2 linked regions of the Homo sapiens genome follow. The main gene of each other region encodes a partner of the protein of the gene in region 2 in a complex. Each region holds a gene or a part of one and is shown on either strand. Other genes may lie near its edges. A codon is read from its position in the direction of its gene.

Region 1 (6,462 bases), on a different chromosome or scaffold from region 2:
TGAGCAGAGAGGAGCATCCTTGAGCCCCCTGGCCTTATCGCTTTTGTCCGTTCTTCCTGGCCAGACCTCAGAGATCTGTTCCTGACCCCAGGCACCTCCCCCTCAATAGAGTGGAGGGGCCCAGCCTCGGCCGCCTGCCGCTGCTCCCCTTGGGGACCTGAGCCCGTTCTCTGACCCCAGCTTAGAGGAACTCGGTGTTGCCAGGCCGGGGTGGGAAACAATGGGCCTTCCGGAGCAGGATGACACCCCCTCCCGCCACAATTCTGGAGCAGCAGCCGTGGGAGGGAAGATGCAGGGGCCCACCCTGGGGCCTGTTGGTCCGTCATTCAGCCCTGCCCCCCATCTCTACCCCTGAACTTGAGAGAACCTTTGGCACCCCTGGACATCTTGGTTGGGAGAGGAGGGTTGAGGGTGCTCCCGACTTCAGATGAGCCCTTTCCTCTAGGGATGGGGTGTGCTATCCTGCACCGGCATCCCAGCTACACACAGACACAGGCCCATTCGGTCATAAGTTTAATGAAGTCTGAAAGGTAAGCGCCATCGTGGTCAGAGATACGGAGGCCCGGTCAGACTCTCCCTCTGCACCTCAATGGAAACGATGTGGTGTCCGGGTACCATGGCCAGGCCCAGCACACGGGGCTCCCCGGCAGAGAAGGAATCTGGAAAGAAGGATCAGAGCATCAGGAAAGTAGGCCAGAATCAGTCCCGCCCCTCTGAGCCACGAAAACGAGCCCCAGAAAACAAGGGTTGCAGCCAGGCCCTTAAGGGGAAATGCCTTGCGTAAGGTTCCGCCACATTACCAGGCGGGTGTGCATTCCCCGGGCACTGACCCGACGGCTTGAGGAACTCCTGCGCCGAGCCCAGGATGACATTGCAGTCACGGTCAGTGCAGAGGAAGCAGCCGACCAGTGTCCGTCCATCTGTCATGCGAATGCGCATAGTCTTGTTGAGCAGCGCCTCTAGCTGCTGTCGGGCGCGCTCAGCCGCCGAGTCCTCGCGCTCTCCGTCCGAATCCTGCGCGGGGTGTAACAAGCGCTCAGACCGCGCAGCCCAGGCTGCCCGCCCGCGGAACCACAGCTCCCGGCAGCCCGCGGGGCACTCACACAAAGCCCAGAGGCTGCCGGGAGCTGCAGTTCCCCACCCCCTCCATCTTGCTGCTTGACTGCCCCTCAGTCCCAGAACCAGAGCCCGTGCTAACCCCAGCACTGGAGCTGCTCTGACGCCGACTGCAACAGCCATTCTCTTCTCGTAGCAGCATGGTCGGTCCAGCTCCGGCCATTTGCCCGGAGGCCTCCTCTGGGCCTTTCAACTTCCTAAGCACCTTTCAGGTTGGGTGGTCCGAGATCTCGCGAGCGCTCCCGACCTCTTTCCTTTCGCGAGATCCCCTCTCCTCCCCCTCCTAGTCTCCTCGGCAACGGCACAGATCTCGCGAGCTTCTCCTACTTCTCTAGCGCTGTGGCTCACTGAAGCGTACTACGCCGGATGTCTTAAGATATCGCGAGACCTTTACCTCTGGTTTCTTACACATCCTTTAGAAACTGGAATTTAGCGAGAATACATTCTTTCATACTGCCTCCTCCCTTGTTTTTCTGTCTCAGAGAGATAGTCTGTCCTAAATATCCCATGTAGCCCAGGCCACTGAATTAAAACGGAGCGTATTCGTTCTCTGCCCCACCCCGCAACTCCTGAAAGCGGCGCAACTCAATTACTTGATCCTTATATGCCCCACGCGGGACTCATACTACGTTTCCCGTGAACACGTGCAGTCCAAACCCCGCCCCTGATATTTATCTCAGTGGACGGTGGCCGGAAAAGGACAATGGTTTCCATGTCAGCGGATAAACGCTCTCCCCTCGGCTCCCGGACGCGACGGAGGTCGTAGTAGTAGTGAGTACGTGCTGAGGAGCAAAGGAGTAACCAAGAGATCCAGTGACCGACAGAGCAAGAGCCATGCCGCGCCGGGGCCTGGTGGCTGGGCCAGACTTGGAGTATTTTCAGCGTCGCTATTTCACGCCGGCGGAGGTGGCCCAACATAACAGGCCCGAAGACCTCTGGGTATCTTACCTGGGACGCGTGTACGACCTAACGTCATTGGCACAGGAATACAAGGGTAAGGGCCACACGTTGGGCCGGGGCCGGAGTGTGTGTGTGTGCACGCGCGCGTTTGCCTGGTTCTCGAAGGGCTGGCATTGACAGTGGCTGTGCTGCTCTTTTCAAGGGAACCTGCTGCTGAAACCCATCGTGGAAGTTGCAGGCCAGGATATCAGCCACTGGTTTGATCCAAAGACCAGAGACGTGAGTTATGCTGGAACCTGGGATTGTGGGTAGAGGAAATGGAGAGCGGGGATGGGAAGGAAAGGCGGAGGCTAGCCAGAGCCTAATGGCTGCTCTGACACCCTCGCCCCAAACCCTCCTTTAAAGATCCGCAAGCACATAGATCCGCTGACCGGCTGCCTGAGGTACTGCACCCCGCGGGGCCGCTTTGTGCACGTTCCGCCTCAGCTGCCCTGTTCGGACTGGGCCAACGATTTTGGGAAGCCCTGGTGGCAGGGGTCGTATTATGAGGTGGGGCGGCTGTCTGCCAAGACCCGGAGCATCCGCATCATTAACACGCTCACGTCGCAGGAGCACACACTGGAGGTGAGAACTGGTGACAAGGAGCAGGTTAGAAGGAATGGGGAATCCCAGCAAATCTCCAGGCCGATCTTCAGGGCAACATTTTTTCCATAACCGGTGGGAGTGTATTTTCTGTCCTTTACATTGAGGCAACTGAGGAAAGCACAGCACCTAGGTCCCCAGGGTTGGGAATTCTAGGAGTGTCTGGGTCACAGGGGGACAAGAGACTCCTTTATAAGCCTGGGAACAGCAGTTCATGTATCTTAGTGATGGTGGTCCTTCGAAGCTCTTACACGCCGTTTTGGACAGCAATTGGACTTTCTTTTTAATCTACTCTGTTGCATGGATATAGTGAGGGGACAGTTGACCCTTTATGGCCATCCGGTAGTTAGAAGTGGCTGCCATTAAGATCTGTAGGACTTTAGGGTCTGCTCATTGCATGCTGGAGTTTCAGCTTTTTTTTCCCGGGGCCGTAGAGTACCTGAAGCTGCTATCTGCCAAGGGAGGCACTTTGATCCCAGCGTGTGTATATGTATACTCCATCCAGAATTCTGGGGGTGGGGTGCTTCTGTGTTCTCCAGGTGGGGGTTCTGGAGTCCATATGGGAAATCCTACACCGCTATCTCCCCTATAACTCACATGCTGCCAGCTACACGTGGAAATATGAAGGGAAGAACCTGAACATGGATTTTACCCTGGAAGAGAATGGGATCCGGGATGAGGAGGAAGAATTTGACTATCTCAGTATGGACGGTACACTTCACACACCTGCAATACTTCTGTACTTCAATGATGATCTCACGGAGTTGTAGGCAAGGAGATGTACACTCGTGTAGACTCAAGACGTATTTCGAGTTTGGCTTTTTCTGTGCCTTGAGGAAAAGTGGTGGGGCCGAGGGGTGCCTGGACCCAGATCTCCACTCCTCTCCAGGAGCTAGCCTGTGCCCTTCTGAAGTGTAAAGGCCCTATTCCCTGCCTTCATTACAGTTTGCTCTGAGAAAATTAGTGAATTAATCTTTGGGAATGATACAAGAAGATCAAGTACCTTGGTTTAGGGAGATGTAGAAGAGGATAGTCAGAGTTCAGGCAGAACTGTTTGATAGTTAAGAGAGAGTAGTTCTACAGGGGTGAGGGATGGAAGGACTTTTTTGGCAATGATGGAAATGAGATGTCTGCAGGAAGATGGGATTTACAAAGAAATAGGAAATGTTTATCATTGACCATACAAAGCTGGCTTATCTTACTTGTAGAAGAGTGTTTGGCAGCTGAAACCCAAGGGAAAGAAAGGAAGTGCGTCATTATAGGCAATTCAGGCTAGATATTATACTAGGTACTTCATATACCCTCTTTTTTTTTTTTGCCCCCAACAAAGAGAAGGGGTCTTGCTCTGTCACCCAGTCTGGAGTGCAGTGGCAAAATCATGGCTCACTGCAGCCTGGAGCTCCTGGGCACAAGTGATCCTCCCATCTCTGCCTTGAGTAGCTGGGACTTCAGGTGCACGCCACAATGCCTAATTTTTTAATTTTTTGTAGACACAGGGTCTCGCTGTGTTGCCCAGGCTGGTTTCAACCTCCTGGCCTCAAGTGATCCTCTTGCCTCAGCCTCCCAAATAGCCTCTTCAAGACAACTACCCCATAAGGTGGATTACCATTACTATGTTACAGATAAGTCCTTCGAAACTTTGGAAAGTTTAATAGCTCAAAGCCACACTAGGTAGTAACCACTAGAGCCAGAATGCAAATTCAAGTCTGCCCAACTCCAAAGTCCATGTTCTCTCAATATAAAGGGACCATCTCAATGTCTAATCTCATGTTAACATTTGTAGCCACTGCTCTCAGCAAGTATTTGGGATGTGGCTTTGTCCTAGGATCCCTGCACAATAGGAAATTGTGGTCCTATTGTATAGTTTGCAGTTATTGTCTCTGGAAGGGAGTTTGCAGAGTTCTCCTGTGGCGAAGAGGAGGCAAGGAAGGCTAAGTGTCAGTTAAGCAATAGCTATTGGGGCTACTTCTTTGTTAATCCCATACCCCAGATTTCTCTCCTGACCTTTTGGGGCAAAGAGGTGGGTATTTACTAACTTGAAGGAAAACTAGAGTGGGGAAAAGGCCGGCAAATTAGTGACACTTTGGCGAGGGAGAAAAAGGAGGCAGTTTGCCACTTGGAGAAGATGAGGAAGACAGGGTTGCAAGACGGTGACTCCAAAAGAGGGAGCTCGACAGGGGTAATGTAAACAGAGATGCTAACTAAGTCAGAAAACTCTCCTGGTGACCAAAAGAGAACCACTATTGGGGGTAATGGCTAGATTTGGTCTCCTTTAACTTAAGGAGGGGAGATTTGAGAATGACAGACAGTTGAACTTCCTGGCAGCAGCAAGCAAAAAACAAATCAGGAAGAGTTTAGTGTGTCTTCTGGCAGGGGACACCAGGGCCCAGCACAGGAGAAGGTGGCCCCTGTGAGATACTGGTGGGCTATATAGGCATTTTCTGAGGGGCTTTGGGAGGCATGAACAAAGGTGGAAACATTGCTGTTGGCTTCGGCAGTATCTGAATTTACTGTGAGATGGAGGGTTTAAATCTAACCCCATGGAATGCAGGAGTCCATGAATTATCTAAATCGATCATTTTGATCTTTAATCAACTCTGCAATTATGTGTACCTTGTTTGCTCAATTAAACCCTGAACTATTTGAGAATGAAAGCTATGCTGTTCCTCTAGTGCAAGCCTCAGGGCCTGTCCTGTGCCTACAGGATGTCCCCATTCTGCCAAAACCTGTCCCTCTTCCAGAGACTCCTACTTCAATGTCTCTTGCTAGAAACACATCCCTTTCCTCACACATCCAGTCACTCATCAAGTGTAATCTGTCTCCTAAATATCTCTGGAACCTATCTTCTTTTCTCCAAGTTACCATCACCTCTTGTCTAAACTGCTACGGAAACTTCCTAACCTGTTCTCCCATTTCCACTTCTGACTTCCATGCTGCAATGAGAGTCAGCTATGAAAAACAAACCTAAACATCGAACTTTCCTTAGCTTCTTCAGTGGCTTCCAACTGCTTTTGGAATAAAGTCCTAAATTCAAAGATCTTGTATAAATCAGGCTCATCTCGCAACACCCCTCTTTGTTCTCTATGGCCTAGACACACTGGCTTTCAGTTCATTACATGTCTTGCCTCAGACCCTCACACACTGTCCTCTCTGCCTGCAACACTCTTCCTTTCACTTTCCACCTAGCTGATCCTAAATGTTCCTTCCTCAGGGAGGTCTTTTCTGATTTCTTGGTGGGTCAAGACTTTCTGATAAATCAGTTAGCACCATGCATTTTCCAGAGTTTTTATTACAATTGTAAAATTATGGCTGTAATAGGCTGGCTGCGCTGCTAGATTGTAAGCTCACGAGGGCAGAGATCTTGTTCACATCTTGCTCACTGCTATATTCTCATTGCTGAGCACACAGTTGCAGCTCAATAAATTTTGAATGAACTCCAATGTTAAGTGAACTCATCCGTCTATACCTAGTGGGGGGGATGTTGTGTCCTAGTAGGCAAGGAAGGACCAAGAAATAGGATGTCTGGTTCCTGTGCTATAGTCTCTATCCATAGGATTCACTTTCCTTGCTTCCCCAATATCCAAAACCAAAAGTTATTCCATAGAGGGTCTCTGGCCAGGTGCAGTGACTCACGCCTGTAATCCCAGAACTTTGGGAGGCCGAGGCATGGGGATCACCTGAGGTCAGGAGTTCAAGACCAGCCTGGCCAACCTGGCAAAAGCCTGTTTCTACTAAAAATCCAAAAAATTAGCCGGGCGTGGTGGCACACACCTATAATCCCAGCTACTTGGGAGGCTGAGGCAG
Region 2 (7,046 bases):
AAAGGAAGACTTATTTGGGGAAAATTCAGACTGCAGAAGTGGCCTGCCTGAAAAGTCACAGCAACAGGCAAAAATAAAATAACCTAGGAAAAAAATCTCAGGCTGCACCTGCAGACAGAGAAGCAGACAGGGTCCAGCACAGAGGCCCTTTGTTCTTTGTATTAATAGCAAGCTCCCAGGAAAAAGTTTCCTCCTCTTTTCAGGCATATACACGTTGGGAGCCTGCACAGGAAGGAGGGGATCTTACCTAAAACAAACCCACAGTTATACAAACAAGAGAAGCAGCTCTTTGTGCTTGTCTAGAGACATACCCACAGCTGCGTAAGATAAGGGGAGTTGCACAGACACCTTTACCGATAAGTCACTCAAACTGTTAGAGAGATGAGAGGAGTTTCTTTTCTTTTCTTTTTTTTTGAGACGGAGTCTCACTCTTGTCACTCACGCTGGAGTGCAGTGGCGTGATCTTGGCTCACTGCAAGCTCCGCCCTCCAGGTCCACGCCATTCACCTGCTGAGGTGGGTGGATCGCCGGAGCTCAGGAGTTTGAGACTAGCCTGGGCAACATGGCAAAACCCCATGTCTACCAAAAATACAAAAAATTAGCCAGGTGTGGTGGCATGCACCTGTAGTCCTAAGTAGTTTGAAGGCTGAGGTGGGAGGATCACTTGAGCCCGGGGTCGAGGATGCAGTGAGCTGAGATTGTGCCACTGCACTCCAGCCTGGGTGAGAGAGGGAGACCCTGTCTCAAAAATACATAAATAAATATAGTAGGACGAACTAAACTGATATTTTGATATTATCCATATTTAATTTAAAAACTCACAAAAACAGTGCCATGTTTCTTTCTGCCACATGATACAGTAGGATATGTTAACTCTTTCTGCTTCCTTTTCTGAAAATATTTCTCTGAGCAGCCTGTAGGTCCTCCTTAATTTATTTTATGTAATGGTAAAACTGATGTAAAATCCACTTTGACTTGCAGCTCTGCTCTTATCAAACTCATGTGACACTGGGTTCCAGTGTCAGTACAATATGATGCCATTGAGCTAAAGTTCATCTCAACACAAGTGTTGAATCACGTAATAGTTAGGATTTTATCTACTAGCAACAACAAGATTTAGACTTGTAGGAATTAATTTCCATCTCTCCAAAAATGGCCATCTACTCTTATGTTGTTTGGGTAGATCATTATTTGTCAATCAGTTCCTTTGCATCCATTCATCACATAGTCTATGTCTAAAATGCCCGTTGCTTTTTCAACATTAGAACGAATATTGGATGTCATCAGAAGTTAAAGGTTTCTCAGGGAAAATGGTTTTTAAATCAGAGAGGTTAGGAGAAATCAAATATGGATTTCAAATAAATTATAGTTTTAGTAAATAAAATGGTTTCACTTGGCTGCCGTGTTCTGGTTATAAATGTGTATTTGAAATATATATGTGTGTATATTTGTGTATTTAAAATATATATGTGTATATTTGTGTTTGAGATATATATGTATATTTGAAATATATATAAGTTCTGAAGCAGTCTTATTTACAAAAAAAGAGTGTTTTTTCCTCTATCAGTTTTTGTCACAACCTATACATGATCCTGAACAACTCAGATGCAGTCAGCTCATCCTTTTCTAGATATCTCATGGTCCTGCAGAGATCATTAAACAGTTTTGGAAAACTAGCATATATGTTTCTACTTTATTGTAACTCTTTTCTACATTCTCATCCTCAAATGTATTTAGTGAGTACCTACTATAGGCCAACCACTTCCCTAAGTCCTGGCGACACAGCTTTGATCAAAACAGGCAAAACTTCTGCCTTTGGGAAATTATTCTGTAAGAGAGATATGCATTCTTAATTTTTAAAGTTTTTTGAGACAGTCTTGCTCTGTTGCCCAGGCTGGAGTGCAGTGGCATGATCTCGGCTCACTGCAACCTACACCTCCCAGGTTCAAGCGATTCTCTTGCCTCAGTCTCCTGAGTAGCTGGGAGTACAGGTGCACGCCATCACGCCCGGCTAATTTTTGTATTTTTAGTAGAGATGGGGTTTCGCCAAGTTGACCAGGCTGGTCTTGAACTCCTGACCTCATGTGATCCACCCGTCTCAGCCTCCCAGAGGACTGGGATTACAGGCGTGAGCCACCACGCCCGGCCATTTAAAAATTTTTTAAACCAATTTTTGTGAAGTTCGGTTTACAAACAATAAAATGTACACATTGTAAGTATATACTTCAGTGAAATTTTACAAATGTATTCACCCACACAGGCACTACCTTAATCGAAAACAGAATATTTACATCACTTCAAATCAAGCTCTATCCAACTTAGTCTCTTCTTGAGCCCTGAGCAGCCACTAATCTGTCTTCTGTCACTATAGATGTCTTTTAAGAGCCTGGGGTCTCACTTGGGGAATCATACTCTTGCATTTGATTTCTTACTCTGTCGCCCAGGTTGGAGTGCAATGGCACCATCTCGGGTCACAGCAACCTCTGCCTCCTGAGTTCAAGGGATTCCCCTGTCTCAGCCTCCCAAGTGGCTGGGATTACAGGCGCACGCCACCATGCCTGGCTAATTTTTTTGTATTTTTAGTAGAGACAGGATTTCACCATATTGGTCAGGCTAGTCTCCAACCCGACCTCTCCACTGCCAGCCTCCCAAAGTGTTGGGATTACACGCATGAGCTACCAGCTACCAAGCTCAGCCTGATTTCTTTTACTCAATATATTTTTGAAATTCATTCATGTTGTATGTCAAGTAGTTTATCCCTGTTTATTGATAATTACATTCATTACATTGTATGGATATGCCACAAATTGTTTTTATTCAACAGTTGATGGACATTTGGGTTGTCTGTAGTTTTTGATGATTAAAAACAAAGCTGGGCCAGGCACGGTGGCTCATACCTGTAATCCCAGCACTCTGGGAGGCTGAGGTGGGCAGATCACGAGGTCAGGAGTTTGAGATCAGCCTGACCAACATGGTGAAACCCCATCTCTACTAAAAATACAAAAAACAGCCTGGTGTGGGGGCAGGCGCCTGTAATCCCAGCTACTCGGGAGACTGAGGCACGAGAATTGCTTGAACCTGAAAGGCAGAGGTTGCAATGAGCCGAGATCAGGTCACTGCACTCTAGCAGGGGCGACAAGAGTGACACTCTGTCTCAAACAAAAACAAAAACAAAGCAAAACAAAGCTGGTATGAACATTAACGTACAAGCCTTTGTATGAATATGTTTTTGTTCCTAAGTAAATTCGTAGATTACTGGATCGAATGATAAGTATATGATTATAAGGAGAGATTGTTAAGTTTTCCAAAGTGGTTGTACCATTTTGCATTACCACCACCAACATAACAGAGGTCCAGTTGCTCTGCATCCTTGCCAACATTTGGTATTATCTTTTCCATCTTTTAATTTTGGGCCATCCTAAAGAACAGGTGGTGATAAAGATGTGCTTCTTACCTGCGCCCGTCTATTTATGTAACCCCATTTAAAAACTGATCATTTTATTAATAAATTAAAAAAATCTAAAACATATAAGAATCTGAAATTAAATGTCTGGCTTGACTTTGCAGATATTTTGAATCTATGTTTCCTCACGAAACTCCCAGGCGCTGTATAGGAAACATAAATCCGTTGTCAGGCAGCAGTAGCACGCTGTTGCTCTCGGAGCTTGGCTGCTCGTTCGTGCTCGCAACCACTAAGGTCTACGCAAACCTCCACGGTTTCCTTCCGCCTTCGCGTCACCTTTCTAAGAAATTCCCAGAGGGCAGCGCAGACGGGGCGGGCTCTGAGACTCCGGGCTCCGCCTCTTTCCGGGAACCGCCCACTACCCAGGACTCCGACAGAGGGTGAAAAAAGATAACTTCCGGTCTCGCGATCGTCTCTAATCTCGCGAGAAGAGAAGGCGGCCGCCATCGGCCGAACGGAGGCGGTGGCGAGGGAGGGGGTGTGGCCGGGGAGCGCGAAGTCCCCGGGAGTAAGGGAGAGGGGGCGGGGTCGCGCGTCCCGGGCATACGCATGCGTGCACGCTGCCGGTCGGGCTGGGCTGAGAGGGGAGGGGGCGGCGGCGGCCGAGGCGGCGTCGTTATTTCCGTGGTCCGGACAGTGCGTGGCGGCGCGGGTGACCACGGGAGAAGTAGGTAGGGACCGCCCCTGCGTAGCCATTGAAACCCTCTCGCTCGTGTGTCCGAGAGCCGCAGCCCCCCGCGCGTGTGGCAGATCCTGGGGACCCCAGGTCACCCTGCGGCCCCGGCCCTCCCGCTGCGCGTCAGGTAGGAGCGGCGGGCTCCCCAGTGCCCGCTGTCGGCCGAGGCCCCACTCTTGCCCGGTGTTGCCGAGGCGACGACCCGGCGCCGGACGTGCCCGCCCTCCCGCGCGGCGACAGCTCTGTCCTTGCTTATGCGCCCAGTGGGACCGGGGCTGGGCTGGGCTGACCCGGGCAGGGCGGAAGGGAAGCGTGTGCCCGCCTCAGGTGTGCCTCGGCCCTAGGCCCGGCCGGCGGGACCCTGCGGTGCCTGCCGGCTCCTCATTGCTCCCGGCGAGGTTCTGCCTGGGTCCGGGCCGGCTCTGGCCCGGGAGAGGTCCCAGCGAGCTCTGGCCAGATGAAGGGCTACCTTGATTGACTTCGGTAGCTGCCGCATGGGGTCCTGGGCTGCGAGAGGGGACCCTGAATAGTGCCTTGGTCTTTTGTGGCTATTATTGAAAGTTGGAAGCTCTGGAGTTGTTCTTTTCGGGCCAGAGGTGAGATGGTTTGTGATTTTTCTTCTTAAACAGTAGGAAGGCAAAATGTTTATGGGCCCTGGTAGGTGGTGGGCTAATAGTAAGCAGCAGGAGTGTTAATTGACGTGCGATTTGATTGCATTAAGGTTATTCTTTGCAGTACTGTCCTTAGACTCAGAAGAGTTCTGCTTTAAAGAGTTTAGTTAAGACTTCATCCTATGCTGAAACAAACACCCATTTCTGCAAATACTCTTGCCCTGAAAGCTACATCCTCTCTCTTACATCAGTATTAATTTTACAGGCATAATGGTTATGAAAGCTTCTGTAGATGATGACGATTCAGGATGGGAGCTCAGTATGCCAGAAAAAATGGAGAAAAGCAATACAAACTGGGTGGACATTACCCAAGATTTTGAAGAAGCTTGTCGAGGTGAGTCTGATTTTTGGATTAGAAGTTCAGCATCTGGAAGGGGTAGAATGACGATTGTGCTTTCTAAACTTACCTCATTAGATGAAATCAACAGGTAAATGTGGTTTGTTGAGTTTGTTAGCCACACTTATTCTGTATCCTCTAATTTTAACTTTAAAGCAAATGTATATTTGATACAGCATTAAATACAGATGTTGAGGCAGTATTTTAAAATTGAATTTTTCTTGCTTTAACAGGTTAGAGAGAGCAGTAATTTCTAACTGTGGAAAACACTTTGTTAATCTAAAAGATAATAGTATTTTTGTATGTTTGAGGTTTCAGTATGATCAGATCACATCATTCCTTGTTTAAGATTGTCCAGTGGCTTCCTGTTGCAGGTAGAATAAAATCCACCCTCCTTCCCTATGGGTCTATAAAATCTGGTCCCTGCCTGCCACTCAGGTTTCATTTATGTGCCACTGTCCCCGCCAGGCTTATTACATTCCAGTCACAGGTCTTTTTTATCTCTTCGTAATACACACCAAGGTGGTTCTCCCAGGTGTTTGCATTTTTTGTTTTCTTTCTTTTAAATTGCTTTGCCCCTCGCTTTCACACAATTCTTCTTAAGTGTTAACCTCCCTGGTGAGGACCTCAAAACAACCACTCATTCTCTCCTCTGCAATTCCACCTCAGTTGAATCACTTTTTATTTTCTTCATACAGCTTATCTTTTTCAGAAGCCATAATTGTCAATTATTTCTTGTTTATTTTCAGTCTCACTCACTGGAATATAAGCTCCGTGGGGGCAGAGATAATTTCTGTAACCCTAGTATACAGAACAGTTCCTGGCACATAGTAAATTCAATAAATAGGAGTAAATGATTGGAGAAATGAACATGCTTGTTGCTTGAGGGGAAAGAGTCTAGGGAGAGACTGAAGATAAGAGAAAGGAACAAATTAACTAGAGTGAGAGCTTGAACGTTAAAGAGAGGATGAGATCAAGGAGATAGTAGAGAAATTGGGGAAAAGCACAGGGACACACTGAGACAGGAAGGACTGAAGTTAGGATGAAGATAAAAGTATATTTCTAAGTGACAGAGGAGGACTGGTGAAGGAATTCACTCCTGATGGCTTGTATTGTCTCAAGCAGCTTAGGTCTTTTGATGATAGGTAGGGTGTGTTTGGATAGTGCTCTGAAGGGGAGGAGTAAAGACTTGGGGCACCTGCAGGTGGAAAGGGAGCCAGCTGTGTATAAGCAAAATGATAAATCATGTGCCATCCTTTGTTTTGAAATCACTTTTTATAGCCTCAGTGAGACAGTGGAAAGGACGTAAGACTGGGAGTTGGGTGACTGCCTATGTATGTCTATCTAAGGAAGAGAGAAAGAAATGTCAAGTTACAGTGTAGTTTTTGTGCTCAGAGATCTTAGACTATTAAGTGGATTATACCTGTCATCTTGCACTGATTTTAAGTAATCTCTATTAGGGGGCTGTCATTATTAACCTAAATAGGGAAGGTTTTTGAAGGTTATATGGCTTGGGTTGGGCCTTAAGGAGAGATCAAGTTTTTGCAAAGGGAGGTGATAGAGTTATTCTAGACTGAGATGAACTATGTGAGTCAGAGTTTGGTGAGGTTTTTATGTTAGGGGAACAGTAAATAATTTTACTTGGCCACAAAACAATTTTAAATGCTGGGAATTATAGAGCGTCTTTAGTGCCATTGATGTTTTTTGTTTGTTTTTGTTTTTTTGGTTTGAGCTTGTTTTATAGGCAGTAGGAGTAATGGATTTGAGCATAAGATTGAAAGTTTGTTCCCCTTGATGATCAGTACAGTGGCTTGGACCAAGTAGCTTCTCAGTAAGTAATGTAGTAAGCTTTATAGTCAGATATGAGCTGGAGTCCTAACTCTGTCACTTACTAGTTTA

What was found.
Region 1: the proteins of NAA35 (region 2) and NAA38 are in contact, whole or in part, in a cryo-EM structure (PDB 7MX2), measured with the Homo sapiens proteins. Residues at the interface, in NP_001308810.1 of Homo sapiens: Val30, Asp31, Ile32, Thr33, Phe36, Ala39, Cys40, Leu43, Leu45, Glu47, Leu48, Leu49, His50, Asp51, Phe54, Glu58, Ala59, Ala62, Ile63, Glu64, Met65, Met66, Ala72, Gly73, Met74, Gln306, Arg307, Leu309, Pro310, Pro311; in NP_001307854.1 of Homo sapiens: Ala41 (codon at 975), Arg42 (codon at 972), Leu45 (codon at 963), Glu46 (codon at 960), Leu48 (codon at 954), Leu49 (codon at 951), Arg61 (codon at 915), Phe67 (codon at 897), Leu68 (codon at 894), Cys69 (codon at 891), Thr70 (codon at 888), Asp71 (codon at 885), Arg72 (codon at 882), Cys74 (codon at 876), Ile77 (codon at 867), Arg97 (codon at 636), Val98 (codon at 633), Leu99 (codon at 630), Gly100 (codon at 627), Leu101 (codon at 624), Ala102 (codon at 621), Met103 (codon at 618), Val104 (codon at 615), Pro105 (codon at 612), His108 (codon at 603), Ser111 (codon at 594), Ile112 (codon at 591), Glu113 (codon at 588), Val114 (codon at 585).

The regions. Positions count from the first base shown.
Region 1 is NC_000017.11:7,856,185-7,862,646, forward strand, and holds NAA38 (N-alpha-acetyltransferase 38, NatC auxiliary subunit), read right to left. Parts: upstream 1,376-6,462; 5' UTR 1,280-1,375; coding exon 1,199-1,279; coding exon of another isoform or gene 1,015-1,198; coding exon 831-1,014; coding exon of another isoform or gene 801-830; intron 660-800; coding exon 547-659; 3' UTR 501-546; downstream 1-500. Other genes in the region: CYB5D1 (cytochrome b5 domain-containing protein 1), read left to right, coding at 1,951-2,110, 2,219-2,295, 2,422-2,640, 3,198-3,428.
Region 2 is NC_000009.12:85,937,140-85,944,185, forward strand, and holds the start of NAA35 (N-alpha-acetyltransferase 35, NatC auxiliary subunit), read left to right. Parts: upstream 1-4,006; 5' UTR 4,007-4,134; exon of another isoform or gene 4,135-4,266; intron 4,267-4,464; exon of another isoform or gene 4,465-4,735; intron 4,736-5,015; 5' UTR 5,016-5,020; coding exon 5,021-5,144; intron 5,145-7,046. UniProt on the Homo sapiens protein: Auxillary component of the N-terminal acetyltransferase C (NatC) complex which catalyzes acetylation of N-terminal methionine residues. N-terminal acetylation protects proteins from ubiquitination and degradation by the N-end rule pathway.